Homo sapiens: one gene and its partners. The protein of the gene in region 3 interacts with the protein of the main gene of each other region in a biochemical or structural test. Each region holds a gene or a part of one and is shown on either strand. Other genes may lie near its edges.

Region 1 (8,865 bases), on a different chromosome or scaffold from region 3:
CCAAACGTCAGTCTTGGTGCTGCTTGGGTCTCGCTGTACAACATTGGGGAAATTACTTAAGTTCCTTGAGTTTCAATTTCCTCCTCTGTAGAATGCGAATAATGATACGCGTTTTTTTTGTTTTTTTTTTTTTTTTGAGTCAGGGACTCACTCTGTTGCCCAGGCTGGAATACAGTGACACAGCTCACTGCAGCCTTGACTTCCCTGGGCTCAGGTAATCCTCCCACCTCAACATTCCCAGTAGCTGGGACCACAGGCATGCACCACCACGCCCGGCTAATTTTTCTATTTTTTTGTAGAGACAGGGTTTCTCCATGTTGCCCAGGCTGGTCTGGAACTCCTGGGCTCAATCAAGCAGTCCACCCTTCTGGGCCTCCTAACGTGCTGGGATTGCAGGTCTGAGCCATCCAGCCTGGCCAGCCATAAGGATTAAGTAAAAATAGTTAATGAAAGTGCTTGGTTTGGGCCAGGTGAGGTGGCTCACGCCTGTAATCCCAGCACTTTGGGAGGCCGGGGCGGGCGAATCACGAGGTCAGGAGATCAAGACCAGCCTGCGCAACATGGTGAAACCCTGTCTCTACTAAAAATACAAAAATCAGCCGGGGGTGGTGGCACACGCCTGTAATCCTGGCTACTCAGGAGGCTGAGGCAGGAGAATCACTTGAACCCAGGAGGCGGAGGTTGCAGTGAGCCTGGGTGACAGAGCGAGACTCCATCTCAAAAAAAAAAAAAAAAAAAAAAAAGAAAGTGCTTGGTTTCTGTAAAGTCTTACCTTGATCTTGAGTTACCGTTTGTCAAGTACTTACTGGGTAGATAGGTATTAGTATTCCCATTTTGCCAAAGAGGTCACTGAGGCTCAGGTAATGAGAGACAGAGCTGGGTCTCAAACCCAGCTCAGTTCAAGCCCAAAGCCCTGTGCTCAGAACTGCCCCACTGTCCCATCTCTCCAAATAAACAGTCCTTCTGTAGACTAGTCAATTGACCCATCTCACTCTAAGGTGGCTCCAGGATGGGAAAAAGGTTGGCAGCCCTAGCCCGACCTTTTTCGTTCCTATGCACTGCATTCTCAAAGCCTCGGCCCTGGCAGCCCAAACAGAGGCTCCAGAGGGAATGGGGTGGAGCCAGGGTGCAAGGGAGGGGTGGAGTGGGGGTGGGAGGGCTCAAGTCACCCAAGCTGGGGCTTGATCTAGCAAGAAATGACTAACTGGGTCCTACCTTCTCCTCCTCCCCCGCATCCCCCAGTCCAGTCAGTGGCCAGTTTTCACCAAGCACCTCCTAGCAGTACTTCCTCAGTATTATCTTTTCATCACAGCCACAAACCAGATTAGCTAAACTAATCATGTAGCCAACATAATTACAATGCCCTCCCCTCCTCCACCTTGGCACAGAGAAGAGGGAAAGCAGGTTATTTTTGCCCAAACTCCCTGCTCCTGTTGCTCCCCAGAGGTGCAGAATCCCATCCCCCGGCAGAAAAGGATCTGAGTTCCCACACTGACTTCCCCCTAGCACAGGGCTGAGCGTGATCCCCACCCAGGATAAAGGGGCTGAGTCTGGGCCCCCAGCCTCACTCCCCCATCTACAACAAAGAAAGAGGTGGTAGACTCTTCCCCTCCAAGCACTCTCGATCCCCGCCCCCCACAATCTTTCTCCCACCCCCAGGACTGAGAGAGAACCCAACTGTTGTATTCTCTCTCTGTTCCCCAACGAGGCTGGGCTCCAAATCCTGCAAAAAGACCACATTTCAGATTTTTTTTTTAAACCGGGGTACAAACCCTGATCAAGATCCCCAATTCTGGGTGGGGGGGGGCGGTCTCAGGAAATTGGGAGCAGGGAAGGCAGGGGGCCCGATGCAGCTCTGCCTGAGAGAGTCTAGCATTGAAGAAACCTTCCCCCAAAAAGCCTTCCTGCGGTCTCACTTTCCCTGTCAAATTCTTTCAGGAAAGCGGGTGGGAAAGGTCTGTGCAGGCCTCCAGAAAGCATGCACCTTCACAATTCAGAAATCAAATGGAAGGCAAGTCCCACAGCCTCATGCGCTTCTGCCTCAATAACCAGCCAGCTAAGTAATGTGGGGGATGGGGTAGAGGCAAAAAAAAAAAGACAAGAACAACCACTCCCCCCACCTTCCTCAGTTTGGCCCAGCCCTGCCCCACCCCCATTCCTGGGGAGGGGGCAGAGCTTGAGAGACAACCACTTACGCAGGCCTTGTCTGAGGGGGTGTGGTGGTCCCAGGAGGCAGGAAGAGAAGGAAGAAGCTGCTTCCCCTCTCAGCACTTTCCACCCCCCACCCCGGCCCCTACCTCAGGCCCCTGGGGCCCAGCGAACAGGATGAATGTGGGGGCAGGGAAGACAGGGTCGGAGCCCAGGCACCGGCCCAGGTTCAGCCAGGGGCCGGCTGGGGGAAGGGGTTTTGCACCAGGAAGGACCCCCTAAGCCTAAAGGAAGTTTTGGGCAAGGAGACGGGAAAACCCCCAGATAAAGCTGCTGTGAATACTTCCTCCTGCAAAGTTTGTTTTGGGTGATTTTTTCCAACAATAAGAGGTTAGAGAAGACGGGTCCTGTTCCCCTACCAACACTCTGGCAGCCACAGCTACTGGAAACTGGGCCAGGTGACCCTGAATTCTTCATCCGTGCACAGACCCCACCCCCCAGACCCCAGGGCGAGCCACGGGTGCCAGACACCAGCTGGACACTGAGCCGAGCCCTGCACCCCCCAGTCACTCCATCCCACCTCCGCTGAAGAAGCCAGAGCCGGGCTCCCACCGGCGTGGAGGGAGGCGCCGCAGGTAGTATCGACGAGGCTCTGGGAGCTGGAGGGCAGGGCCTCTGGACTCCGTGCGCTCACCTGCTCGGCAGGTGGGGCCAGAGTCGCTGGGAAAATGTGCGCTCGGCCCCCACAGTTGGGCAAGCTGGGCGCAAACAATAGGGCCCCACCCAGGCCTGGGGGAGTAGGGAGGGAGGGAAAGCGAGGATGACGCGTGGGGTGGGGTGAGGGTGGCCCCAAAGAGACCAGCGGCAGCAAGTTCCCCAAACGGTAAATTCCTGACTGCAGCGTGAGCCCTGGGACGCAGTCGAAGCAGAGCAAAGTCTCCCCCGCCAGCCCAGGGCGAGAGTCAGGGACGCGGCGTCGGGCGAGCTGCGCGGGCCCCGGGGGAGGCGCGACCCCGGAGGCACCTGTCCGGATCCCTCCCCGCCTTGCTCAGATCTCTGGTTCGCGGAGCTCCGAGGCGCGCTCGGCCCGAACCGCGCGACCCCCAAGTCGCCGCGCCCAGGACCCCAGCGCGCCCCCTGCCGCCGGTGCAGGGTGGCGCTCGATGGCACCGGCCCTCACCTGCCCAGGGACGGCTGGGACCGGCCCCGCGGCCGCTCGCCACCCCTCTGTCCCCAACGATACCTGCGCCCCCGATAGCCCGCACCTGAGTATGGGGCCTGACCGGGCCGGGTCGGGGTCGGGCCGGGGTGGGAGCCGGCGCGGACAGCGAACTGAGCTCGGCGTGGTCGGGCGGCGGCTGCTCCGGACTCTGGCCAAGGCAGCAACTCAGTAACCGAACAAAAGGCGAAGAGACCTGACAGCCAAGCCACGCCCCTCGCCACCTCGAAGCTCCGCCCCTGGGGGAGACGCCCACCCTCTGGTGCGAGCTCACTGGCTATCTCGCCTGACTGTCCCGTGGAGGGGCGGAGCCTCGCCTCCAGTCCTCTTCCACGGCCGCCTCTGTTTATCCGCTTGCCATTGGCCCCGGGGACTGCCAGTCGGCTCTAGGGATGGACTCTAACTTGAGGTCTCATCCTAACATTGCATCTATTGGCAGATAGAAAGTTACTTCCTCCTGATTGGACAAGGCTCTGTCAGTAAGACTAAGGAAAAAACCAATGGAAGGGATGGGGTGTGTCTTGCCCCACCCTTGCTCTGAGCAGGTGAGACTCATTACTCTCCCCTTCCCCCTACCTGTCCAACAGGTAAGTCATAGGGATACCAAGGGAAGGGACAGACGCCTTCACCGGCCAGCCAACTCAGCGTCAGGCATGATGCTTCTTTGGGCTTATTCATCCTTGCCCCAAAGTAGTAATCACATATTTGTATAGCATTTCATAGGCTTTGTGCTGGGGTGGGATTTTTTTCCCGAAAGATGGAGTACTCCTGGGATTTAGAATTAGAAGGCCAGGTTTGGTCTTCTCCCACTTGGTATGATTTTAGGCAAGTTACTTCACCCTGTTTCTCCTCTTCTGTAAACTGGATACATTAGCCATATCTACCTCACTGGAGTATGTGGGGATTAAATGAGGTCAGGTTTGTGAAAGCACTCAGAAACTGCTAAAGGTTAGAAATTTAAATTAACGGTATGTTTTTTTTTAATTATTGTGACAGCTCTGAAAAATAGTTAGGATGAGAAAACGACCCTCATTGTAAAGATGAAGAAACCGAAGTTCAGAGAAGTCACAAAACTACAAAGTGGCACACCCCAAGCTAGAACCTCCTTCCTCTCATTTGAAGGACCATCAAACCAGCTGTTCCCCTCATGGAAGAGGAGCATAGACATAAAATGTCAAGGCAATGGGGAAGGGGCAGAGAAAAGGCACAAACACTTGGAGGAGAGACAGAACAATTAATTGGCACAAAAATACAGTATTGGTGTCAGGAGGCTTTGGTGGGCTTGGAAACATCAAGCAGCAGATCTGAAGGAAATCCAGCCCTGGCATGAAAGAAACGGGGCAGGCCAGGCGCAGTGGCTCACTCCTGTAATCTCAGCATTTTGGGAGGCAAAGGCGGGTGGATCACCTGAGGTCGGGAGTTCAACACCAGCCTGGCCAATATGGTGAAGCCCCATCTCTACAAAAAATACAAAAAGTTAGCCGAGCGTGGTGGCGGGCAACTATAATCCCAGCTGCCTGGGAGACTGAGGCAGGAGAATTGCTTGAACCTGGGAGGCGGAGGTTGCAGTGAGCCGAGACCATGTCACTGCACTCCAGCCTGGGCATGACAGAGCGAGACTCCATCTCAAACAAAAAAAAAAAAAAGAAAAGAAAAAAATAAACCGGGCAGCACACCCCTCTGCGATAGGAGAGCCTGGGGTAGAGATCAGAGAGAACTTCTCGGCCAGGCGTGGTGGCTCATGCCTGTAATCCCAGCAATTTGGGAGGCCAAGGTGGGCAGATCACTTGAGGTCAGGAGTTCGAGACCAGCCTGGCCGACATGGTGAAACCCCATCTCTACTGAAAATACAGAAATTAGCCAGGCATGGCAGCGGGCACCTGTAATGCCAGCTACTCGGGAGGCTGAGGCAGGAGAATGGCGTGAACCCGGGAGGCAGAGGTTGCAGTGAGCTGAGATCATGCCATTGCACTCCAGCCTGGGTGACAGAGTGAGACTCTGTCTCAAAAAAATAAAAAGGACTTCTCACAGGCAGCTTAAGAAGACAAGGGCACTTCCTTTCTGTGGTTGATGACATGAATGCTGCTCGTGGCTGTATGGTGTGCCAAGGGCCCTACAAACATTCCTTCATTCAACACTTGAGTATTCATTGTCAACTGTATGTTAGGCACTGGTGAACACAGAAAATAAAACCTGGTGACACAGGAAATAAAAATGATCCCAACCTTCAAAGAGCTCATAGAAGGATAAGCAGAAGCAGCGTGTGTGGGTGGGTTTTGGAGGAGTGGTGGTTTAGAAAAGGGTCCCCCATCAACAAAGCTCTACAGCCCCAAAGCTAGCACACAGGATGGGCTGGATGAAGGTACCTTAGCAGCAACCTTGACCACTTTCCCCACCAGAGAAAAGAATGGTAGCTGAACATTCTCCCTTCTGAAGTTGCGCCATCCAAAAGCAGGGCCAGGGAGATACGGACATCCCTGAACTAGTGGCCATCCCATAACCAGGGCCACCGCCCTTTGCCTGTTTCCTCAACTCTCCATCCTCCAGCTTACCTCCCTATCTTTATCCCTGCCTTACCCCTGCCCCATCCACCTGCTTGTCACCCTGTCACATAGAGCTGTAGCCAGGCCACAGCTGGGGAAGGAATGGGCTCACAATCCTGGACTGCTGCAGCTGCCAGGGTTTCATTTCTTCCCCCTTCTGCCCACCTCCCACCTCCACACATGCACACACACATACGTCCCAGCTCCAAGCCTGGCCTGACTCCTTCCTATTTCTCCTGACCTCAGCAAAGAGGCAGGGTAGGGCTGGTTGACTGCAGAGAGGGGTGGAGGAGCCCATGTGGGTGGAGGAGCAGAAATAAGGTTTCAGAATAAACCGTGTGTGTGTGTGTGTGTGTGTGTGTGTGTGTGTGTCTCCCCAGAATGCCCCCTGCGTGTCTTAGCATGGAACATGTTGCATAACACCAGCCCCAGAGCTAAACACACAGGCTGGGACTGGTGGAAGCACCACCACAGCAGCGGCAAAGACTGGGATTAGAGCTGAGTCTCTCCTCCCAGATCAAGGGATTCTCTTTAAGCACCTACTATGTGCCTGGCAGGCACTGAGATTCATCTGTATCTGAGAATACAGAATAGAATCAGAAATGATGTTTCCTAGACTCAGCTGTCTGCACAGGCAATTTGGTCTCTTGTGAAAGGAGGTATGTAGGGATAGGATGGGGGTTTCTGTGACCACAGTCTCCCCTGTAGCTTGAACTTGAAGAAAAGGCCGCAAGGTCATCTTATCCAGTCCCCTGCCTGCAAACCTTTAAAGGCAAGAATTCTCTGACAAATGTCCAGGAAAGAAGATCCTGCAGCCTCCCTTATGGTGAATGCCCCTGTCTCCTTGTTCTAATGTCCAGCCTCAATTCCTATTCCTGCAGTTTCAATTCCTTCCTCTTGCCCAGGGCTCAGTGGAAGCAGAGTCCATGGGCTGCCAAAAACACATATGGGTAACTCAACCTTGCAGCTTGCTAGTGCTTCAGAGTAGAGAATATAAGGGTACCACATGGCCCATCTCAAGCTGCTGCAGAGACAGAAGTAACTGGCGCAGAGAGGTTCAGTGAGGGACTGGTGGGAGGGAGGCTCTTTTCTAGGGGAGGGTGCACACCATCAGCCAGTGTCCAGGACCACCAGGCCACCGTCCTCTCCTTATCTCACAACCCCCCTCATCTTCCACGAGGCCTCTGGGCCATACAAGGAGATGGAAGAGTTTCTGTTCTCCATTCAAACACAGTCCTTAGGGCCGGGCACAGTGGCTCATGCCTGTAATCCCAGCACTTTGGGAGGCCGAGGCGGGTGGATCATCCAAGGTCGGAAGTTCGAGACCAGCCTGACCAACACAGAGAAACCCCATCTCTACTAAAAATACAAAAAATTAGCTGGGCGTGGTGGCACACACCTGTAATCCCAGCTACTCAGGAGGCTGAGGCAGGAGAATCGCTTGAACCCGGGAGGCAGAGGTTGCAGTGAGCAGAAATCGTGCCATTGCACTCCAGCCTGGGCAACAAGTGCGAAACTCCAGCTCAAAAGTAAAAAAAAAGAAAAAAAACCCACAGTCCTTATTCTATGGGGGCCTTTTCCCCAGAGACAGGTAGAAATTTAGACGTACACAAGCCACACACACACACACACACACAACCTTCTATGCTCACACCTCAGGGATATACACTTGCGGGTGCAGATTCAGATACACAAACACCAGCTTTCTCTAATACACGCGCGCGCACACACACACACACACACACACACACACACACACACCCTTCTTCCTGCCTCTTCAGCCTCAGGTAGCCTAAGACATAACCACTTCTATAAAGGGGAGCCCAGGGTGACCAGCTGGGTTGCCAAACTTCAGGCTGATGATGGTACATTTTCATCACCCAGTAGCCTCTTCCCCGCGCTTTGCAGCAGCAGAAAAGGAAATCACACAACGGGAGGTTCTTCCCGGATGGCAGACTTGAAAGAAAGGCAATGCAGAAAGCTAGAGGCACCTTGGGTATGAGCCATCTCTCAGCCCAGGGACAAAGCCAGCCTTTTTTTTTTTTTTTTTTTTTTCTCAGAGACAGGGTCTCACTCTGCTGCCAGAACTGGAGTGCAGTGGCGAAATCACAGCTCACTGCAGCCTCAACCTCCTGGGCTCAAGGGATCCCCTAGCCTCAGCCTCCTGAGTAGCTGACCACAGCCGCTACCACACCCAGCTAATTTTTTTTCTTTTTTTTGGTAGAGATGAGGTCTCACCATGTTGCCCAGGTTGGTCTGGAGCTCCTGGCTTCAAGTGATCCTCCCACCTCAGCCTCCCAAAGTGTGGGGATTACAGGTGTGAGCCACCACACCTGGCCAGAGCCATCTTTACACCCAGTTTCTCTCCAGGTCCTGGCCTGTTTTTTGTTTTTTGTTTTTTGTTTTTGGAGTCTCACTCTGTCACCCAGGCTGGAGTGCAGTGGTGCGATCTCAGCTCACTGCAACCTCCGCCTCCCGGGTTCAAGTGATTCTTCTGCCTCAGCCTCCTGAGTAGCCGGGACTACAGGCACGTGCCACCATGCCTGGCTAATTTTTTGTTTTTTTTTTTCTCAGTAGAGACGGGGTTTCACAGTGTTAGCCAGGATGGTCTCGATCTCCTGACCTCGTCATCCGCCTGTCTCGGCCTCCCAAAGTGCTGGAATTACAGGCCTGAACCACCATGCCTGGCCGATCCTGGCCTTTAAAAGGCCTCCACTCTGGCCCTCCTGGGGTTGCCCCCTCCACACAGGGGCAAAGGGACAGAGGAGCCTACATGGACTTCACATTCCTTCTAGACCACACTCCAGGGACCAGCACCAGAAACTCTGGAATTCCTGCCCAACACTGACCCTACTTTCCAGGCCTGCAGGTCGCTGACTCTGGTCCTTCTCCCCAGGAGCAGCGGCACCAGTGCTACTGTGCATGGACACACTTGGGCCAAACTAGGGACATGAC
Region 2 (7,338 bases), on a different chromosome or scaffold from region 3:
AAGGCTGCAGTGAGCTGTGATTGTGCTACTGCATTCCAGCCTGGGCAACAGAGCAAGACCCTGTCTCAAAAAATACATGATTAAAATGAAAAAAGACTTTTCTAATGAAATAAACAGTGATGTTAACGAATGTGATTTCAAAATATTGTGTAATGCTATGTGTTAGCATTTTGAATATCTGGATAACTTGAAGCAGTATTTTGCAAGTGACAAATACATATGTCAAAATCGTACATAGGTAATTGATCCGTTAAAAGTGCAAGATGGACCAATGGATTTTAACTAAACAGAATATGAAGTGATTGTTAATTATAGATTCCACATTACTGTCAACCTTTAAGAAACTACTACTAATTAGTATACTATTAAAGAAGAATAACCACAATTATCTGAAAAGACTATTAAAATCATCCTCTTTTCCAACTTTTTATCTGTGTGAGGCTGGATTTTCTTGATATACATTAACTACAATAACATATCACAAAAGATTGAATGCAGAAGCAGGTATGAGAATCTAAGCCAAATTTCAAAGAGATATACAAAAATGAAAAGGATGTTATTAAAGATTATTTATGATAACATGTAAGAAGTTTACCATTAAGTGAAATAGATACTTTAAACTTGTCAGTATGGTAACAATTAATACATAAAACTCACACCAATGAAGGTTCTTTAGATCCTTATAATTTTTAAGACTGTAAAACGGCCTTGAGACCAAATAATTTGAAAACTGCTAGTTTAGATGGAATTGTTTTTTGATTTAAGAGTCTGTAGGGGCCAGGTGTGATGGCTCACACCTGTAATCCCAGTACTTTGGGAGACTGAGGTGGGAGAATCACTTGAGCCCAGGAGTTTCAGACCAGCCTGAGCAACATAGTGAGACCTCATCTCTACAAAAAGCTTAAAAATTATCCAGGCATTGTGATGCACATAGTTGGTGCTAAGTAGAAGTGTGAATGAAGGGAAGGAAGGAGGACCAGAGAGCAATTTTCATGATGTGTACAGATTTTGAAGAATTGTTTTTGACATGGATAACTTTCTGACTTCATACAGATAAGAAACCTGATCGGGAAGAAATTCAGATGAGCAATATGGGATCAAACACAAAATCACTAGGTAGGTGATTAATTCCTGCCTAAGGATGTGGAGTAATATTTCACTGGCTAAGGAGAGCTGTCTAGCTCTATAGTTTTTTTTCTAATACCCTTACCATTTACCATCCTGGGAGAGCATTGGCTGATCATTTCCATTTTGAAGGATGTAAGGAAATTTAATAAAATCTGATCCGTCTACTTTTTCTACATTCCTACATGCTCAAAGGTTTTCAGAAATCTTTCTATGCCTCTCCTATTACTACACATTCAAGTTTGTAGCCCATTATATTCCTACCCCAGTCTCCTTCTCTGGAGTGAATGGATACATCTGTTTCTGCCCAACTATTCTGCTTGCTATTCTATCTATTCACTCTATAGTTTGATTCTGCTCATGTAATACCTCTTACTGGTATGTCCTTCCCTTTTGTCTTTCTAAATTCTCTTTATCTCCAAAGGCTTAACTCAAGTCCTGTTTTCCCTTGTCAGGTCCTTCCTAACGATTGCAGCATATTTCACTCGCTCTTCTTTTAATTCCCATAACCTTTTCAGACAAACCTCTTGTTTAGCTTTATTATGTCATATTCTGGGTATTTTATACATATTGTCTTCCATCTTAGATTCAAGTTCTTTTTTTGAGACAGAGTCTCACTCGTTCACCTGGGCTGGAGTGCAGTGGCGTGATTCTCATACCTCAGCCTCCCGAGTAGCTGGGACTACAAGTGTACACCATCACACCTGGCTTATTCTTATATTTTTAGTAGAGATGGGGTTTCACCATGTTGGCTAGGCTGATCTTGAACTCCTGGCCTTAAGTGATCTGCCCGTCTCAGCTTCCCAAAGTGCTGGGATTACAGGCATGAGCCACCACGGTCAGCCAGATTCAAGTTCTTTAAGTCGGGGACCATCAGACTTTAATGCCTTTGTGGAGCATTTGACAAGCTCAGTTCCCAACAGTGATGCCTAATTACACCTATCTGTTTGATATACGTTTTACACTAGAGGGGAATGTCATATTTCTGTGTACTTTTTTTTTTTTAACCAGATAACAACTATTCCACACCAAATGAGAGAGGAGACCACAATAGAACACTGGATCGATCGGGGGATCTAGGCGACATGGAGCCATTGAAGGGAACAACACCCTTGATGGTAAATTCTCTTTATATACTGCTATCTGTCTAAGGCTAGTTCTATTTTGAAGCCTATGTGTTTTGTGAAACACAAAAAAAAGTACAGAGAAAGATCGCATCCTTTTCTGGTAGGGGTTTTCAGGAAAAAGTAAGAGTTCTGACTCATGTTGGGATTTCTTGGGCCGTTATTCTGCAGTGGTCAAAATGGGGGAAGCATGTCTGTAAAAGTGTTACTGATATGACTAACACTAACTGATCTACTTTCAAACATTACCTTTTTCCTCTCCCTCCCTGTTTATGAATGTTTTGCCCTTCTCTTACTATTATATCTTGTTTTGTTTGAGTTTACAAATTTTCAGAGTTTCCCTAGCTCTGGCACACACTCATGAGGTTCCTGTCTCTACTCATACTAACAAATTGCATGTGTTCACAGCAGGACGAGGGGCAGGAATCTCTGGAGGAAGAGTTGGATGTGTTGGTTTTGGATGATGAGGGGGGCCAAGTGTCTTACCCCTCCATGGTATGTCCTTCAGTCACCCCCAAGATTGTTCTTGAGGAAGGAGGCTCCTGAGTGCCAGCAACTTGTCAATCACGCTAATCTGATCAGGCCAGAGACTAAGTAGTCTCAGCCACATGGGGCTCGAGGGGTTCTGCTTTTGTGATTATTACCTCTTACGAGTCTGGGACATGCAGCTGGTGATCTGATTCTCCGTTATGTGCTGCTTTCCTTTCTCCAGATTTGCTCAACTTTTTTGGGGGGGGTCTCCTTAATCCCAACCCCATTAACATTCTCTCTTTCTCTTTTTTCTCCACAGCAGAAGATTTAGCACCACTATCTCCGTTCCATCTGGGCTTATATGTACTTTTATTTTTTGGTGGTGAAATTGACTGATGATTTTCCTTTTTCTTCGCTGGACTATTGTGCCAACTGCCAGGCTGCCTCCTGCCCTTACAGCCCTAAGTGGCTGCCTTCTTTCCATCAACTCCCAACTTCTTCCTGTGAAGTTTAATTGTCTCAACGCCTCCCCCTCCCCCATTCCCTCCATTTTTCTCCCAAGAAACCTGACTCAATTATTTGCATATTTTGAGAAACTGCTGCAGATTAGTTCTTTTTGCCAGTTTTCCCTGGAACTCCTGGCCTTTTGTGGAGGGGAGGGATGGAGAGAATAGGAATCTTCACTAGAAGCCGTGGGAAGAATTGGAAGTTACATGCTGTATATGCAATGTCCAGCAGTCTGATAAACTGACGATTCTTAATCAAGATTTTTTTCCTGATGGGGAAGGGACTTTTATTTTCTTTTAGAGAGGGGAAAGTGTGAGCTCTTCCCTTATTCCTAATGGCTATTTTTGAAGCAAAGAAGGCCAGCAACATTGGCACATGCCACCTGGCAAAGGACCCTTGAGTAAGTGAAGGTCTCCTAAAACTGGGATTAAGAAACCTTGCTCTCCTCATCTCCAAGGCAGGGACCATCAAGAACCTACAGACTCCATCTCTTCTGCAAGCCTCATGCCAACCCTGGGCTATTGCTGCTGCCCCTTAAACACAGGCTGTCCTTAACCCACCTCTCCTGCCCTGTGATATGTCTGCTGAGTTGGCCTGGCCATTTCCAAGAGGCTGTAGAAAGGGGAGAATGTCAAGGAAGACTTTTGGTAGAGAAGGAGCAGAAAGATGTGTTTTTGGGAAGAAGAAGACCTCTAGGAGGAGCTAGTAGGAATGTACATGAAGCAATTAGTCTGAAACTGGCTTCCCCACTCCCCCGTTTCTCCTTTTCCTATCCTTATAGGCCTGTCCCTTGCCTCTGCCCTGGATTGGTTGGCAAACTAAAGGACTTGATGTACATAACTCCTGTCCCTTTTCCCTTACAAGGTGGGGATTGCCCCTGGCTTTGCCTCTTCTTTGTGCCTTTGGCCTGGGGTGCATCTCCTCCCGCCCTTCCATGTGCCTTTCTTTGCCTCTGCAGTCTCATTTCTCATAATTTTGCAAATTATATTTTGTTGCTTTCTTACCTACTATTGGCCCTAAATAGCAGAAAGAAGAGAAGTGACCGAGAGAACCTCAGATTCTTCATTGAGGATTGGTATAGCCATGATTTCAGTCATAGCAAGCTTTTGCTCAACAGCATATGGGTGGGATTTTGCAAAAATCCTATTCTGATGAATCTCAAAGTAAGGCTGGTAAGAGAAGTGAGTGGTGTGACTCTTACTCCTTAGGTGCCCAGAATTTACCATCATCTCTGAAGGAGTTACAGGGAAGTGGTCTCCCCAATTCTCCCCTCCCTCCAGTATTGCCCCCTCTCACTTTAGCATATATTAATTAGCAGGTTGGGCTAGAGAAATCAGCTGCTATGCGGGTTGATTATTATTATTATTTCTAATCCTTTTCCTTATTTGCCTTCTACTCCCCTTAATCTAATCTAAAAGCTCTGTTCCATGCAACTGGAGTTCCTTATCCCTCTCTTCCCCTTCCCTTATATATTGAGGCTATGGGGTAGGAGAAAAGTGCACAACCCACCACCCCCTTTACTCGTGCATTAAAATTTCTTATTTACCCTTTTCCCCCTTCCCATTTCTTCCCACTTTCATCTACCTTTTCTGGCAAAAAGGAGCCTTTTGCTCTCTGTGACCCTAAGAGCACACTGCACAGGGAAAATTGCCCCATCCAGACCTGGCTCCACTCTTGATCTCTCTTGTCCTCTTCTGCTCTTTTCCTGGTGCTCTTTTTTCTCGGTGGGGTGTGGGTAATAGAACAGCCGTGGGCTTTTGGGGACCTTTAACTTTTTTTTCTCTCTTTTGTTTATAAAAAACACTAAACATTCAATTCCAGAGAACCAAAAATCCCACCTTCCCACCGAACACTACTAAGGGGCTTGTGTTCTGCTCCATACCTTTTCTCTTTTCTTTCTGTCTTGTTAATGCTTTTAAAAACAAATGAGTTTTTTATATAAATAAAGTTTTTAAAGTGTGTATGTGGGGGGTCTGTGTCATTTCTTCACTTCAAGCTGTTATTTCTTCCCTGCTTTGCATCTTTGTTACTTCCTTATGTATCAGTGTCCTTTCCAGAGCAACCAGAAGGAGGTTATACCAGGATTTATTTTGAGCTCAGCCCCAACTCTTTATCAAGCAACATTCTTGTTAACTATATGTGAAACATTTTTTCTTCTGAAGATTCTTAAAAATTGAATGTGGCTGAAGTTGAACATGGGAGCTTATTGCTAATTTAGAGATAGGAAACTGAAGCATAAAGAATTAATGACTTACTTTAATTACTGGAATTCTTCTGCAACATTTGACAAAACTAACCTTGAATAAGGCCCACTGTAATACGTAGCTCTCTTAAATATAACACTTAGGACTAGAAGATTAGAAACTACCAATCCCAACTACGTAATAGGAAAATGTAGGATCAAAAGGCCCATGTATATAAGTACTGACCACTGGGCCATAATGTTGCTTCTCAGGCTATATGCAGTCCTTTAGTCAGAAGTCAATAGGCCTATTTATTAATATTTTACAGACCATATTACCTGGATTACCAGGGACTATCTTTGCTGCAGAGATCAAGGGTTAAGATCTATGGGAAGATACTTATTTTTCTGAGGTCCTTATGTCCTGTCATATAATTAAAGACTCAAGAGAATTTATGTGAAATGCTTTCTGTATGCCCAAATCTTTAGATTAAAATTATATAGCTGCTCCTGATGATGGTCCTGTCTTGTTTTATTGAACTAGGACTTGGGTATGAAAACTTTCATGGGCTAGTGAGACCAGGAAATCAACTAGCTTTTAAAGCTTGATTTGTGTCTAACAATTGTAGTGTTAGATTAGAGGTTGAAGTACAAAGCCAAAAAGCTATTAAGAGTTTACTTTCCAAAGAGTTTTGATAGCCCTGCTTGAGATGATTTTTATCTAAATAGAAAAGCCTGGCTGCTTGTCAGCAACACTTTATTTCCCTGTTATGTTCTTATCCTTTGGCATTGAGCTAGATACAAACCCTACTCTTCTCTCTTCCTTCTGGATTGGTCCATTTGTTTATCTCATTCAATAAATATTTGCCAAGCACCTCCTATATGCTAAGCGTTGTGTCAAGGTTAGGTTTAGATTAGAGAGTGAAACAGATGGATCTTTTCTCATAGATTGCAATCCATGAGAATCCTCTATAGCTAAGATCTATGATCAGACGAGATCGTGTGCGTTCAGGGTGATATGGCCATAGACAAGATCTATGATCTTAAAAACACTTCTCTCTGTGCCATATCTAAATACAATGAGATGTTACACAGAATGATGTGTAAAGGCCCTATCTCACAAGTTTCTTGACACTGATGTACTTTGTGACAGAGGTCAAAGCTGGGACCTCACTTGGCCACTTTTTTTTTTTTAGACAGAGTCTTGCTCTGTCACTCAGGGGCACAATCTCGGCTCACTGCAACCTCAGCCTCCTGGGTTCAAGCGATTCTTCTGCCTCAGCCTCCCGAGTAGCTGGGATTACAGGTGTGTACCACCACGCCTGGCTAATTTTGTATTTTTAGTAGAGACAGGATTTCACCATGTTGGCCAGGCTGGTCTCAAACTCCTGACCTCAAGTGATCCACCCTTCTTGGCCTCCCAAAGTGCTGGCATTACAGGTGTGAGGCACTGCGCATGGCCGGCCACTTGTTTTTCTTGCTGAACTAATTTTCTTTGCTACAAACTGGAATCACCTCACCCAGGAAGAACTAAGAACCAGTCTTTCCATATCATTTTTTTCTCATTTTGTCTATTTTTATATCTGAAGCAAAGGTTCTTAATATTTTCATAGATGGAATTGACTAGACCTAGCCCTGTATATCTGAGCAAGTTACATAAGAATTCCCTGTATGCTTGTTGAAAATGCAGAGTCCCATGTTCCATTTCCAAAAATCGATTCAGTAGGTGGGACTGAGGAATCTAAAATCATGGTAAGTCATCCAGGTTATCCTCTTTTTTTTTGTTTTTGTTTTTGTTTTTTTTTTTGAGACGGAATTTCACTCTTGTCACCCGGGCTGGAGTGCAATGCCACGATCTCAGCTCAGTGCAACCTCTGCCTCCCGGATTAAAGCGATTCTCCTGCCTCAGCCTCTTGATGAGCTGGGACT
Region 3 (7,166 bases):
CAACTAATTTTCACCCAATGGATTTGGCATCTGTGGATGATTCTTGCTGAAGCAATGATTACTATAATCCTTATTTATTTTTAAAAGCAGACTCCTGCAGACCAGCTCCCCCAAACAATACAGTAGTTCCTAAATGGTGGCAACATGCCACCTCCTCTCCTGTCATGAACATCTGGAGATGCAGGTTGCCCTGTTGACCTGTGGGTGGACTGCACTATTGCCATTTAATGGGAGGTACAGGGAGGCTAACAGAGATCTACTGCTCAGTTATTTACTAGGGTCATGGAAAGGCTCTGAAAGAGAAACTAAGAAATCAAAGGAGGAAAGGGCTCTAAGAAACTGTGGGCTTGGCCTCACTTCTTTGGAAGTGCAAAGCAATGAATTACATCAAGTGGTCATTGTTCCAGGCGTAAGGGCCTCTGGAAACAGACACTAAAGACCTGGTCCCTGAATCTGCCCCAGGAGATGCTTTGAACTATCTATTTCACTACTGCAAGCTTTCAACCCAGCCTGGAAACTGTACAATCCAGGGTTTCATCACTGAACCTAATCCTACATTATTGTCTTTGACTTTTCATCATTCTTTTAAACTTCGATTAAAACCCATCTTGCCAGGCCTTACAGTTTGGAGCATGTAGAAATATCTCTAGATTATGAGGAGTCCATTGGCTACACATAGAAAATGAGAGTTTTTTTGTTTTTTGTTTTTGAGATGGAGTCTCACTCTGTCACCCAGGCTGGAGTGCAGTGACTCGATCTCAGCTCACTGCAACCTCAGCTTTTTGGGTTCAAGTGATTCTCGTGCCTCAGCCTCCCGAGTAGCTGGGATTACAGGTGTGTACCACCATGCCCAGCTAATTTCTTGTGTTTTTAGTGGAGGCAGGGGTTTCACCATGTTGGCCAGACTGGTCTTCAACACCTGGCCTCAAAGTGATCCACCTGCCTAGGCCTCCCTAAGTTTTGGGATTACAGGCATGAGCTGCTATGCCCAACCCAAAATGAGAGTATTTTAAAGCAAGTGTTGTAGTTGGTTGGTTGGCATGTGGGTTCTCAGTTCTCAGCATCTGTGTGATTTACATTATAGAGGTACCTTCAAGTTTGAAAGGAGAAATACTGATAGTAAGCTACTTAGAACACAATACTATGGGCTGGGTGCGGTGGCTCACGCCTGTAATCCCAGCACTTTAGGAGGCAGGCAGATCACTTGAGGTCAGAAGTTCGAGACCAGCCTGGCCAATGTGGTGAAGCCTTGTCTCTACTAAAAATACAAAAATTAGCCGGGCGTGGTGGCAGGCACCTGTAATCCTGGCTACATGGAAGGCTGAGGCATGAAAATTGCTTGAACCCAAGAGACAGAGGCTGCAGTAGGCAGAGATCACGCCACTGCACGCTAGCCTGGGCGACAAAGTGAGACTCCAAACTCAAAAAAACACAATAGTATGTATGCAAAGTAAAATTGCATTTCTACCATACTACAAGAGCTCAAAGAGAGGCAGCACATCAGACCAAGAACGGCTGTCTGTGAAGGGAAGGGAACAGGTGAAAGGAGCACAGATAAAGGGAATAAAAAATAAATTAAGAGAATGGTCTTGTACAGACAAATGACAAAATGCCATGAAGTACATATTATTGATTTACATATAAAATGATATAAAATAACCAGTTGCTGCAAGTCAGTTGAAAAATCCTCACACTTACGTTATTTTCTGTTCCATAAATGTGTCTGGCTCCTGGGCAGTGTAGGATGTGATTTCCTGGCCCACGCCAAAGTCCTCGGACACTTCCACTCTCTTTTCAGGAGGCACAAAGATGGGGGCTTCATTCACATCCAGCACATCCACGGTGACGGTGGCTGTGGAGGTGGTGAGAGAGACCTCAAAAGGTACCACATTCGTCACTGCTACGTGTAGAATGTACTGCTGCTTGGCCTCAAAATCCAAGCCCTAGAGAGCAGAAACAATGAAGTTAAAAACAAAACGAAACATTTTGTGTTAGTAAAAATAAAATTAAATCCTTAACTGTTGCTTTTGGTAATATATTAGGTTGGTGCAAAAGTAACTGTGGTTTCTGCCATGACTTTCAATGGCAGAAACCACAATTACTTACCATGGCTTCTCAAATCTGCTCACCTACTCAAGAGGAAGGCAAAGCTGGGGCTATTCTAGGGATCCAGTCACTTCAACAAGCAATTCACTCAAATTCTTAGTTTTCAAGTTTCTTTCCTTATTTTATTTTTTTCTGAGACAGAATTTTTGCTCTTGTCACCCAGGCTGGAATGCAATGGCTCACTGCAACCTCCACCTCCTGGGTTCAAGCAATTCTCCTGCCTCAGCCTCCCTAGTAGCTGGGATTACAGGAGCCCGCCACCACACCTGGCTAATTTTTTGTATTTTTAGTAGAGACGACGTTTCACCATGTTGGCCAGGCTGGTCTCGAACTCCTGACCTCAGGTGATCCACCCGCCTTGGCCTCCCAAAGTGTTGGGATTACAGACATCAGCAACTGCACCCGGCCATCTTTTTTTTTTTTTTTTTTTAAGAGATGGAGTCTCATTCTATTGCCCAGGTTGGAGTACAGTGGCATGATCATAGCTGAGTGCAGCTTCAACCCCCTGGGCTCAAGTGATTCTCCCACCTCAGCCTCCCAAGTAGTTGGGCCCACCGCCATACACTACTGCGCTTGGCTAGTTTTCAAGTTTCTAGGACATTTTTCAAAAACAACCATATCTGCCCCACTTCTAAAATAAACCAGCACAAGAGCAGAGACCAGTAAATCATTTTCTCTGTCACCGCAAAATGGAAAGAGCTGAGGGAAGGAGAATGTTTCTGGGAAAGAGCCTATTAAAGCAGATAGTACTTCTTTTTCAATTTCAGGATCCTGTGTAACAGCTTCTTGATTTCTTTTTTTTTTCAGACAGAGTCTCACTCTGTTGCCCAGGCCAGGGTGCAGTAGCACGATCTTGGCTCACTACAACCTCTGTCTTCCAGGCTCAAGCGATTCTCCTGCTTCAGCCTCCCAAGCAGCAGGGATTACAAGTGTGCACCACCACGCCCAGTTAATTTTTGTATTTTTGGTAGAGACAGGTTTTCACCATGTTGGCCAGGCTGGTCCCAAACTCCCGACCTCAGGTGATCTGCCCGCCTCGGCCTCCCAAAGTGCTGGGATTGCAGGCATGAGCCACCATGAGCCACCAAGAAGCCTTAGCTTCTTGATTTCCTTTTTTTGAGACGAAGTCTCACTCTGTTGCCGGGCTGGAGTGCAGTGGCACGATCCTGGCTCACTGCAACCTCCCTCTCCTAGGTTCAAGCGATTCTCCTGCCTCAGCCTCCCTAGTAGCTGGGACTATAGGTGCACACCACCATGCCCAGCTAATTTTTGTATTTTTAGTAGAGATGGGGTTTCACCATGTTGGTCAGGATGATCTCGATCTCTTGACCTTGTGATCTGCCCGCCTTGGCCTCCCAAAGTGCTATGATTACAGGCGTGAGCCACCACGCCCGGCCTCCTTTTCCCCGCCCACCCCTGGAGACTGAGTCTTGCTCTGTCACCCAGAGCTGGAGTGCAATGGCACGATCTTGGCTCACTGCAACCTCCACCTCCCAGGTTCAAGCAATTCTCCTGCCTCAGCCTCCCTAGTAGCTGAGATTACAGGCACGTGCCACCATGCCTGGCTAATTTTTGTATTTTTAGCAGAGACTCAAACTCCTGACCTCGTGATCTGCCTGCCTCAGCGTCCCTAAGTGCTGGGATTACAGGCGTGAGCCACCACACACAGCACAGTTTCTTGATTTCTTACATGAGCAGGAAGAGCCACTGCAAATCCCACATGGTCCACTACAATCTGGGAAAGTCACCCTGTCCCCCTGCCAAAGCGAATCTACTTCTAAGAAGATACCAGGGGACAAGGGTATGAACAGCTGTGAGGATGCCAGTTTCTGCATCTTGCCAGGTACCATACAAACCTTTGCTGTTTTCAAAATGCCATCGTTGTTCACTGGATTTGTGGTGACGACAAATTGTCCACCATCATCATTCAATATGGTGTATACAGCCTCCCACGCTGGGGTATTGGGGGCATCAGCATCAGTCACTTTCAGTGTGGTGATTACGACGTTAGCCTCGTTCTCAGGCACCTGACCCTTGTACTGCAGAGCAAAGAGATGTGTCATTTACAAAGTACCAAGACTGCTAGCAGAGCTGAGTCTCAGGGGGCTAAAGGATTCCTCTTTTTTTGTTGTTCTTTTGAGATAAGATCTCACTGTCACCAGGCTGGAGTGTATTTGAGCGATCATGGCTCACTGTAGCCTCAACCTCCTGGGCTCAAGCAATCCTCCCACCTCAGCCTCCAGAGTAGCTGGGACCACAGGCATGCACCACCACACCTGGCTAACTGAAAGCAAGCTTCAAGGAGAAGATGTGACAAGGAGAGGCCAGGCAATGGGCGCACTGGGGTGCAATGGTACAATCTCGGCTCACTGCAGCCTCCGCCTCCTGGGTTCAAGCAACTCTCATGCCTCAGATGCCCGAGTAGCTGGGATTACAAGCATGCACCACCACGCCCAGCTAATTTTTGTATTTTTAGTGGAGATGGAGTTTCGCCACGTTGGCCAGGCTGGTCTCAAACTCCATCCTCAAGGGATCCACCAGCCTTGGCCTCTCAACTTGCTAGATTACAGGTGTGAGCCACCACGCCTGGCCATTATACAGGATGATTTAAACTTACCCTACTTGGTTCTCAATACCTTCTCCTTGAATGCATGTAATATCCTTGGCATACAATAATTCTCATAAGATGTCTTCCTGGCTATACCAGAAACACCATGAGAATGGAATCTTTGTGTGTGATGGTCTCTCCAGTGTCTAACACAGTGCCTAATATAAACTTAGAAAATATTTGTTCAATAAAGAAATGAAACCAGGTAATATTTGCTATAAAAATGTACCATGAGACTATGAAATCAGTAGGTGCTTTTTGCAACTTCACAATCTTGCACCAATTGGCCCCAGGCCAAGGGTGGAAAAAAGATACTAAAAGACAACTGCCATCTCAAGATGCTTGCTTTTAAGTTTAAAGTTAACATTCTCTAGTCTGGAGAGAGTTTTCAAAGACTTCGCCCATGAGCAGTGGTGACACTTAGTTCATGAACAACAAAAGACCTTTCTTTGGAAACCCTCTAAGGAGTTATAGAATTACCGTGGTGGGATTGAAGATCGGAGGATTATCGTTGGTGTCAGTGACTGTGATCACAGCTGTTGCTGTTGTGCTTAACCCCTCACCTTGAAGGTCAGCAGCTTGAACCACCAGGGTATACGTAGGGAAACTCTGCAGAGAGATCGACACAACCAAGTCAGGACCAGGAACACTAGCCACCTTTGGCCTAGCCCAGCCCAACACATGGAACCAGAATATTTAACCATGTGCTTCATGCCAGCCTGCCTGTCTTCTAGGCACGGAACCTCTGGGCACAAGCTTAGATGCAAAGCTTAGACCATCACTGTATTAACTGACAACTGGCCTAGCAGGATTTTGCTTTGTCCACGGGATTGAGCTAATACACATTTGTCCTCCACACCCTCTGGATCCTCCTGACCCCTGACCTCTCGGTCCAGCCCAGTGGTGACCACACTGATGACTCCTGTGTTCCTGTTAATGGTGAACATATTTTTGTCAGGGAGCTCAGGATCTTGGCTGAGGATGGTGTAAGCGATGGCGGCATTGTAGGTGTTCACATCATCGTCCGCGTCTGTGGCTGTGACCTCCATCACAGAGGTTCCTGGAAGAGTTCAAGGAGATGAAGGTTTAGACAAGCTGCACTTTGGGACTGGGTCAATACTGCTTAATCCAATTCTGCCCTGAGGGATAAAGGAGGGGACATGGGGGTGGTACCGTGTCAGAGTTCCCTAATTCCTAGAATTCTTACCAAAGTGCTAGGGGAGAAAGAAAGCTCAAACTATCAACTTATTATCCAGGTATAAATACACAAATGGTAATAAAGAAAAGAAAGGGAATGATTACCACAAAAGTCAGGGTGTGGTTATCTTTTTTTTTTTTTTTTTTTTTGAGACGGAGTTTTGCTCCTGTTGCCCAGGCTGGAATGCAATGGCGTGATTCGGCTCACCACAATCTCTGTCTCCCGGGTTCAAGCAATTCTCCTGCTTCAGCCTCCCAAGTATCTGGAATTATAGGCATGCGTCGCCACGCCCAGCTAATTTTCTATTTTTAGTAGAGACAGGGTTTCTCCATGTTGGTCAGGCTGGTCTCAAACTCCTGACCTCAAGTGATTTGCCCACCTTGGCCTCCCAAAGTGCTGGGGTTACAGGTGTGAACCACCACACCCAGCCTAGGGTGTGGTTATCTTTATGGAGGAGAGAAAAGAATGTGACCAAGGGGGATTGTTTAGGGCTTTAAGGTACTGGTAAAGATCTGTTCCTTAATTAGGAAGGTTGTTCTTAGCCAGGTATAGTAGCTCATGCCTATAATCTTAGCAGCTTGTGGGGCTGAGGTGGGAGGATTGCTTGGGCCCGGGAGTTTGAAAGTAGCCTGGACAACAAAGCAAGACCCTGTCTCTGAAAAAAAAATTTTTTTTTTTTTGAGACGGAGTCTGGATCTGTCACCCAGGCTGGAGTGCAGTGGCGTGATCTCAGCTTACTGCAACCCCCGCCTCCCGGGTTCAAGCAATTCTCCTGCCTCAGCCTCCCAAGTAGCTGGGATTACAGGCCCCCGCCACCACGACCGGCTAATTTTTTTGTATTTTTAATAGAGACGAGGTTTCACCATGTTGGTCAGGCTGGTCTTGAACTCCTGAGCACAGGTGACCCATCCACCTTGGCCTCCCAAAGTGCTGGGATTACAGGCATGAGCCACCATGCCCAGCCTAAAAAAAAAAAAAATTAATAATAAAAAAGGGAAGATTGTTCTTAAACTCTCCCTATTTTATATGTTTCCACAGGTAGACTGTTACACACATGCATATAACACAACAATGGCTTGCCAAGAAGTTCTGTCCGTAGGAAGGATCAGCTTTAGTTACACAACCTTTGGGCTTGGACAACACTTTGGGGTCCAAAGAACCTAAGAGTCTTTCTGAGTATTCAGATTCTCATTAGTGGATATACCTGGAAGAGCACCTTCCATGACAGACCCCTTAAAGACCTCCTGGGTGAAT
Region 4 (7,944 bases), on a different chromosome or scaffold from region 3:
ATGTCCTTTGCAGGGACATGGATGAAGCTGTAAACTATCATTCTCAGCAAATTATCACATGGACGGAAAACCAAACACCACACGGTCTCACTCATAGGTGGGAATTGAACCATGAGAACACTTGGACGCAGGGTGGGGAACATCACACACCAGGGCCTGTCAGTGGGGTTGGAGGGCTGAAGGAGGGATAGCATTAGGAGAAACACCTAATGTAAATGACGAGTTGATGGGTGCAGCAAACCAACATGGCACATGCATACCTATGTAACAAACCTACACATTATGCACATGTACCCTAGAACTTAAAGTATAATACAAAAATTTTAAAATTTTAAAAAAAGATCACAGTGAATGGGTACAAAAGTACTATTAGATAGAAGGAATAAGATCTAGTGTTCCGTAGCCTAGATCTGGCCTAGGGTGACTATAGTTAACAATAATTTATTGTATATATTTATATATTTCCTTTTTTTTTTTTTTTTTGAGAAACAGTCCGCTCTGTCGCCCAGGCTGGAATGCAGTGACGCGATCTCAAATCACTGCAACCTCCGCCTCCCAGGTTCAAGTGATTCTCCTGCCTTAGACTCCTGAGTAGCAGGAATTACAGGCTTGTGCCACCATGCCTGGCTAATTTTTGTATATTTTGTAGAGATGGGGTTTCGCCATGTTGGCCAGGCTGGTCTCGAACTCCTAAGCTCAAGCAATCCCTGAGCTCAAGCAATCCTTGAGCTCCTTACAGGCATGAGCCACCATGCTCGGCCTTTTTTAATTTTTTTTTGAGACAAGGTCTTGCTCTGTCACCCCGGTTGGAGTGCAGTAGTGCAATCACAGCTCACTCAGCCTCAACCTCTCAGACTCAAGCGATCCTCCCACCTCAGCCTCCTGAGTAACTAGGACTAGAGGTATACACCACCAATCCCAGCTAATTTTTGTATTTTTTGTAGAGATGGGGTTTGCCAGGTTGCCCGGGCTGATCTCGGACCCCTGGGCTCAAATGATACTCCTGCTTTGGCCTCCCAAAGTGCTGGGATTATAGGCATGAGCCACCATACCCAGTCTGTATATTTCCAAATAACTAAAGGAGTGGAGTTGGAACGTTTCCAACACAAATAAATGATAAATGTTTGAGGAGATAAATATCCCAATTACTCTGATTTGATCATTACACATTGCATGCTTGTATCAAAATATAACATGTACCCCATAAATATGTACAACTATTATGTATGCATAAAAATTAAAAATAAACATGACAAAATGTACTATTAAGAATATTAGTCCAAAAAACAAATAAAAACAACAAAAGAAGAAAAAAAGAAATAATTAAAAAAAATAAAAAGAAGAATATTAGTCTGAGGCCAGGTGCGGTGGCTCTGGTGAACCCAGAGATTAAGGCTGCAGTAAGCCATGTTTGCGCCCCTGCACCCTAGCTGGGTAATAGAGACACTGTCTCAAAACAAAAATAAAACTGGGCAAAGGCTGGGCAAAGTGGCTCATGCCTATAATATTCCCAGTGCGGCCGGGCGTGGTGGCTCATGCCTGTAATCCCAGCACTTTGGGAGGCCAAGGCGGGCAAATCACAAGGTCAGGAGTTTGAGACCAGCCTGGCCAATATTATGAAACCCGGTCTCTACTAAAAATACAAAAATTAGCTGGTGTGGTGGTGGGCGCCTGTAGTGCCAGCTACTCGGGAGGCTGAGGCAGGAGAATCACTTGAACTCGGGAGGCAGAGGTTGCAGTGAGCCGAGATCGAGCCACTGCACTCTAGCCTGGGCGACAGAGCAAGACTCCATCTCAAAAAAAAAAAAAAAAAAAAAAAAAATATATATATATATATATATATATATATATTCCCAGTGCTTTGTGAGGCCAAGAGTTTAAGATGAGCCTTGGAAACATAGTGAGATCCCATCTCTACAAAAAATAAAAAATAAAAAAATTAGCTGGGCACAGTGGCTCACACCTACAGTCCTAGCTACTTGGGAAGCTGAGGCAGAATTGCCCGAGCTCAGGAGTTTGAGGTTACAGTGAGCTATGATCACACCAGTGCACTCCAGCCTGGGTAACATAGTAAGACCCTATCTCAAAAAACAAAACAAAACAAAAACTAGGCAAAATACCTGAACAGATACCTCAACAGAGAAGTTATACAGATTATAATCACAGAAAAAGATACTCAATATCATATGTCATTAGAGAACTGCAAATCAAAAAACAATGAGTTACCACTACACACCTAATAGGATGGCTACAATTTTTTTAAAAACTGACAACACCAAATGCTTGTGAGGATTGCTGATGGGAATGCAAAATGGTAGAGCAGCTTTGGAAGACAGTTTGGCGGTTTCTTACAAAAGTAAACATACTATATGATCCAACAGTCTTGCTCCTTGGTATTCACCCAAATGAGTTTAAAACTTATGTCCACTCAGCCGGGCACAGTGGCTCACGCCTGTAATCCCAGCACTTTGGGAGGCCGAGGAGGGTGGATCACGAGGTCAGGAGATCGAGACCATCCTGGCTAACATGGTGAAACCTCGTCTGTACTAAAAATACAAAAAATTAGCCAGGCCTGGTGGCGGGCGCCTATAGTCCCAGCTACTTGGGAGGCTGAGGCAGGAGAATGGCGTGAACCCGGGAGGCGGAGCTTGCAGTGAGCCTAGATGGCGCCACCGCACTCCAGCCTGGGCAACAAAGCAAGACTCCGTCTCAAAAAACAAACAAACAAACGAAAAACAAAAACAACTTACGTCCACTCAAAAATCTGCACACAGATGTTAGTAGCAGTTATATTCATACCAAAACTTGGACGCAATCAAGATGTCACTTAGTAGGTGACTGAATAAATAAACTAGTACATCCAGACAATGCAATATTATTCAGGGCTAAAATAAAATGAGATCCCAACCCATGAAAAAAACATGGAAGAACCTTAAATGCATATTTGAGTAAAAGAAACCATTCTGACCGCCAGGTGCAGTGGCTCACGCCTTCAATACCAGCACTTTGGGAGGTTGAGGCGGGTGGACATTATACGTCATTATATATTTGTCAAAACCCGTAGAAGACACAACACCTAGAGTGAACCTTAATGTAAACTATGGACTTTGGGTAATACTGTGGTGTCAATGTAGGTTAACAGATTATAATTAAAGTACAACTTTAATGTGGGGTGTCAATAGTGGGGAAGGCAGGTGAAATGCTCTATACTTTCTGCTAAGTTTTGCTGCGAACCTAAAACTGCTCTAAAAAATAAAGCATATAAAAGGAAAAATTTGGCCGGGCGTGGTGGCTCACGCCTGTAATCGCAGCACTTTGGGAGGCCGAGGCGGGCGGATCACCAAGTCAGGAGATCGAGACCATCCTGGCTAACATGGTGAAACCCCGTCTCTACCAAAAATACAAAAAATTAGCCGGCCGTTGTGGCGGGCGCCTGCCGTCCCAGCTACTCGGGAGGCTGAGGCAGGAGAATGGAGTGAACCCTGGAGGTGGAGGTTGCAGTGAGTCGAGATCGCACCACTGCACTCCAGCCTGGGCGACAGATCGAGACTCCGTCTCAAAAAAAAGTAAAAAAAAAAATTTTTAAACTGGAACACAGAGGATAAGTAATCCTGCTTCGCCCCTTGCCTCTCGCCCCTGCATGGGGCGAGGAAGGATTGATCAAACCCAGAAAGACTGAGTGAGAATGGATGTTGAACACAGAACTGAAGGATGAATGGGAGTTACCTGAATAGAACCCAGGGGCTTGAATGCAAGAAGAGGCGGGCATTCCAGGCAGAGGAGAGCAAGGGTAAGGGCCCCACGGGAGGCATTCGAGTAGGAGGGTGAACTATGATGACAGAAGACTCAATAACGATCCAAAGAAACCAAATGATTGGGCGCCTTCTTTCGGATCCGTGACTTCCAGCGCCAGGAGTCTCTATTGGCTCTTATACCGTTGCTCTATGGGATAGCAATGTTTTTGTCCTTCAGCCTCCCCTCCAATTGCTGAGCTGCTGGTGTGTTTTGAGGAGTAGAAGGCAAAAAGAACCCTCTTGTTTTTCTTTGGATCTAGAGAGAATCTGAGCAAATGACAAAGCAAATGGGGTAAAATGTCTTTTTGTTTAGTTTTTCCTGATTTTCCCATGAGAGGCAAATACATGTTAAGGATAGTTGAATCTGAGTAAAGGGCATAGAAATATTCCTTACAAGATTTTTGTTGGCAACTGGTCTAAGTATGAAATTATTTCCAAATAGAAAGCTAAAACAAACAAAACAATTGGCCTTGGGAAACTGGACAATCTTGAAGTAATCAAGTAATATTGTTAAGGGACAATCAGTGTTGTGAAAACAACACGGATACACCCCCTCCCTCCCCCTCAAAAAAAAAAACCCTAAATTCAGTTCCCCCGTTGCTAATGTGTGACCCTGGCAAAGTCATCTAAGTCGCTGAGCTTCAGTTCCTCCAACCCAGAGAGTTGTTGCAACGATCAAATGAAAGAATGTCTATTAAAGCCTTTCATGAACTATATTATTGCTGCTACCGTAGAAATGGAAAGTGTGCAACACTAGATCCAAAACTACTTTTGACACTTCTGAGACTGTGGCCGCGCCTCTGTCACCTTCCAAAGGCCACTAGGCCTTTCCTGAGCTGGCATTGGCAACGCACACTCTTGCCCGGCTAACCTTTCCAGGTGGGCGGCGCACTGGCTTCACTGCTCTCCAGGTGGCCGCTGCAGCTGCCCGAGAGCGCAGGCGCAGAGGCAGACCACGTGAGAGCCTGGCCAGGCCTTCCGGCCTAGCCTCACTGTGGCCCCGCCCCTCTCGAACGCCTTCGCGCGATCGCCCTGGAAACGCATTCTCTGCGACCGGCAGCCGCCAATGGGAAGGGAGTGAGTGCCACGAACAGGCCAATAAGGAGGGAGCAGTGCGGGGTTTAAATCTGAGGCTAGGCTGGCTCTTCTCGGCGTGCTGCGGCGGAACGGCTGTTGGTTTCTGCTGGGTGTAGGTCCTTGGCTGGTCGGGCCTCCGGTGTTCTGCTTCTCCCCGCTGAGCTGCTGCCTGGTGAAGAGGAAGCCATGGCGCTCCGAGTCACCAGGGTGAGCCGCTTCGGACTGCGAACTAACGCGGCCTTCTTAGCTGCTGCCTGCTCTCCCTGCCTCGCCTGCGGGAGCCTCCCGAGCGGGAGAGGGCCGCAGGAGCGATTTGGGGAGGAAGGTGGGAGGGGACTCACCAAGAGAGCGCCGAGGTGGGCCCAGGCCTGGTGAGAGAGTGTGGGGGACGATGGATGGAGGGAGGAAGGTGAGAAAGAGAACTGGACGGATATTGGATAAATGTTTTGGGGAGGTGGAGAGTCGACTGGGAACCTTTTGAAAAAGTGATAGAGGGTCCCTGAGTGGGCCCGCCAGCAACTCTGTAACCCCCTTCCCAGAGAGAAGGTGTCTGCAATTGGAGGCTTTTTCGGTTTCCTTTCAAATGTAAATTCTCGGTATTTTAGGGCTGGCCAGGACTAATCAGGGAATCCCTCAATTGGTAAATGTAGAGGTCGGCGGAAACTGACTTGTCACGGCCGCAGAGTAGACTCTGGGACCCATGTTTTCCCTCGGAACCCATTTTTAGTCGGCTTTCTTTCTGGGAACTTCTCCTTGTGCCCCACCTTAATTAACCCTTGACTTACTCGAGCCTTCGTGGATCAGCTCTTAAAGTGGTCTTGCTTCTTTCAGAACTCGAAAATTAATGCTGAAAATAAGGCGAAGATCAACATGGCAGGCGCAAAGCGCGTTCCTACGGCCCCTGCTGCAACCTCCAAGCCCGGACTGAGGCCAAGAACAGCTCTTGGGGACATTGGTAACAAAGTCAGTGAACAACTGCAGGCCAAAATGCCTATGAAGAAGGTAACTCTCTTCCTGACCTAACTTCTGTAAGAGCCCGCCTTCCAACTGTGGCCTTTGATGCAGAAACATTTCATTCTCTCTGTTTCATCTACAGGAAGCAAAACCTTCAGCTACTGGAAAAGTCATTGATAAAAAACTACCAAAACCTCTTGAAAAGGTACCTATGCTGGTGCCAGTGCCAGTGTCTGAGCCAGTGCCAGAGCCAGAACCTGAGCCAGAACCTGAGCCTGTTAAAGAAGAAAAACTTTCGCCTGAGCCTATTTTGGTAAACTTATTCTTACCATTGTAGAGTCTGTTGATTATTTCTTGTCCCTTATTTCACTGATACATGCAAGAGCATTCAAATGAATAGTAATATTAATACCATTTATTGAGTGCTTAGCATGAGGCAAGCTCTGCCTAACATTTTACATGCATTAACTCACATAATCTTTACACGTACTCTCTGAGGTATTGTCACCTCTACTATTTAAATCATGGCTTTAGAGAGGTTATGTCAGGGTCACACAGGTAAGTGGCCCATATGGGATTCAAGCTCAGGCTGTCTGGCTTCAGAATCTATGCTTTTAATTGTCAACTGTCTTATATTCCTTCGTTAATGATATTAAGTAGTAGCTGTCTGAGCCAAAGGCTTTGTTATCCAACTACAAGCCATCTCTGCAGAATTTATTGGCGTAAACATAGAATGTTCTCTTGAATTTTTTTACTGCTGCATATGGCTACTAAATAATAAGCCTGTAACATTGGAATATGCAAAGGAGTAAAACAGGAAGAAGGCAACTTTTCAGGGAGTGGTTAAGAAGATGAATTAACACTTAGCCTCAAAAATAATAACTTTTTATTAAATATAAGGTATGTAAATGTATTCTATGATAGACCTACCTGTGAAGGAAAGGTAGGTCATGTAGAGGAGGCTGCTTTGATGAAATTGCAATGAACTGTATTCTGAAGCTCTGTTTTTTTAAACTTAGTTAAAACCAGTTGGGAAAATTATCTGAAAAAAACTTGTTGAGACAGAGTCTGGCTCTGTTGCCCAGGCTGGAGTGCAGTGGCGTGATCTTGGCTCACTGCAACCTCTGCCTCCCAGGTTCAAGCAATTTTCCTGCCTCAGCCTCCCTAGTAGCTGGGATTACAGACGCACGCCACCACGCCCAGCTAATTTTCATATTTTTAGTATAGATGGGGTTTCACCATGTTAGTGTACTCCTGACCTCATGATCCGCCCGCCTCGGCCTCCGAAAGTGCTGGGATTACAGGCGTTAGCCACGGCGCCCAGCCAGTTCAGCTTCTTATATCTAAGGATAAGAGATTGAAAGCTATTGCTTTAGTGTTGAATTTCTGGGCATAGCACATGAAATATGTAGCCAGCACAGTCTTTGGGCATATCAAACTACGTGAGGCTTTCTTGGAAGGCCCATACTGATTCTTACCTTTGCTTTCCCACTTAGTAAGAATGCCTTCCCCACCCTGTCTTTCATTTAGCTAATAACCTTTTCATCCTTGAAAACAGCTCAAGCATCAACTCCTGAAGCTTTCCCAAACTTCCCCCATCTCCACCCCCTGTTCCTAGAATCAGTCTTTTTTTTCCCTTTGAGACAGAGTCTCACTCTGTTGCCCAGACTGGAGTGCAGTGGTGCCATCTTGGCTCACCACAACCTCTGCCTCCCGAGTTCAGTGATTCTCCTGCTTCAGCCTCCCAAGTAGCTGGGGCTACAGGCACATGCCACCATGCTTGGCTAATTTTTGTATTTTTAGTAGAGACGGGGTTTCACTATGTTGGCCAGGCTGGTCTCGAACTCTTGATCTCGTGATCCACCCGCCTCAGCCTCCCAAAGTGCTGGGATTACAGGTGTGAGCCACCATGCCCAGCCTTAGTCTTATTTTTGTTTATTTTTTTTTTCCCAAGACAGAGTCTTGCTCTGTCACCCAGGCTGGAGCACAATGGCACGATCTTGGCTCACTGCAACCTCTACCTCCTGGGTTCAAGCAATTCTCTTGCCTCAGCCTCCTGAGTAGCTGGGATTACAGGTGCCAGCCACCACACCCAGCTAATTTTTTTATTATTTTTTTA

What was found.
Region 1: the proteins of CDH1 (region 3) and JUP form a complex in vitro, tested with the Homo sapiens proteins (2 studies listed by BioGRID).
Region 2: the proteins of CDH1 (region 3) and CTNND1 form a complex in vitro, tested with the Homo sapiens proteins (5 studies listed by BioGRID and IntAct, with this or other methods).
Region 4: of the proteins of CDH1 (region 3) and CCNB1, one has a biochemical effect on the other in vitro, tested with the Homo sapiens proteins (3 studies listed by BioGRID).

The regions. Positions count from the first base shown.
Region 1 is NC_000017.11:41,783,175-41,792,039, forward strand, and holds the start of JUP (junction plakoglobin), read right to left. Parts: upstream 3,538-8,865; 5' UTR 3,414-3,537; exon of another isoform or gene 3,329-3,413; intron 2,934-3,328; exon of another isoform or gene 2,843-2,933; intron 2,803-2,842; exon of another isoform or gene 807-2,802; intron 1-806. UniProt on the Homo sapiens protein: Common junctional plaque protein. The membrane-associated plaques are architectural elements in an important strategic position to influence the arrangement and function of both the cytoskeleton and the cells within the tissue.
Region 2 is NC_000011.10:57,813,258-57,820,595, forward strand, and holds the end of CTNND1 (catenin delta-1), read left to right. Parts: intron 1-1,053; coding exon 1,054-1,116; intron 1,117-2,136; coding exon 2,137-2,243; intron 2,244-2,657; coding exon 2,658-2,744; intron 2,745-3,039; coding exon 3,040-3,051; 3' UTR 3,052-6,283; downstream 6,284-7,338. UniProt on the Homo sapiens protein: Key regulator of cell-cell adhesion that associates with and regulates the cell adhesion properties of both C-, E- and N-cadherins, being critical for their surface stability.
Region 3 is NC_000016.10:68,810,292-68,817,457, reverse strand, and holds part of CDH1 (cadherin-1 isoform 1 preproprotein), read right to left. Parts: coding exon 7,117-7,166; intron 5,775-7,116; coding exon 5,599-5,774; intron 5,324-5,598; coding exon 5,195-5,323; intron 4,146-5,194; coding exon 3,963-4,145; exon of another isoform or gene 3,896-3,962; intron 1,944-3,895; coding exon 1,699-1,943; intron 1-1,698.
Region 4 is NC_000005.10:69,162,206-69,170,149, forward strand, and holds the start of CCNB1 (G2/mitotic-specific cyclin-B1), read left to right. Parts: upstream 1-4,944; 5' UTR 4,945-5,057; coding exon 5,058-5,078; intron 5,079-5,702; coding exon 5,703-5,873; intron 5,874-5,967; coding exon 5,968-6,138; intron 6,139-7,944. UniProt on the Homo sapiens protein: Essential for the control of the cell cycle at the G2/M (mitosis) transition.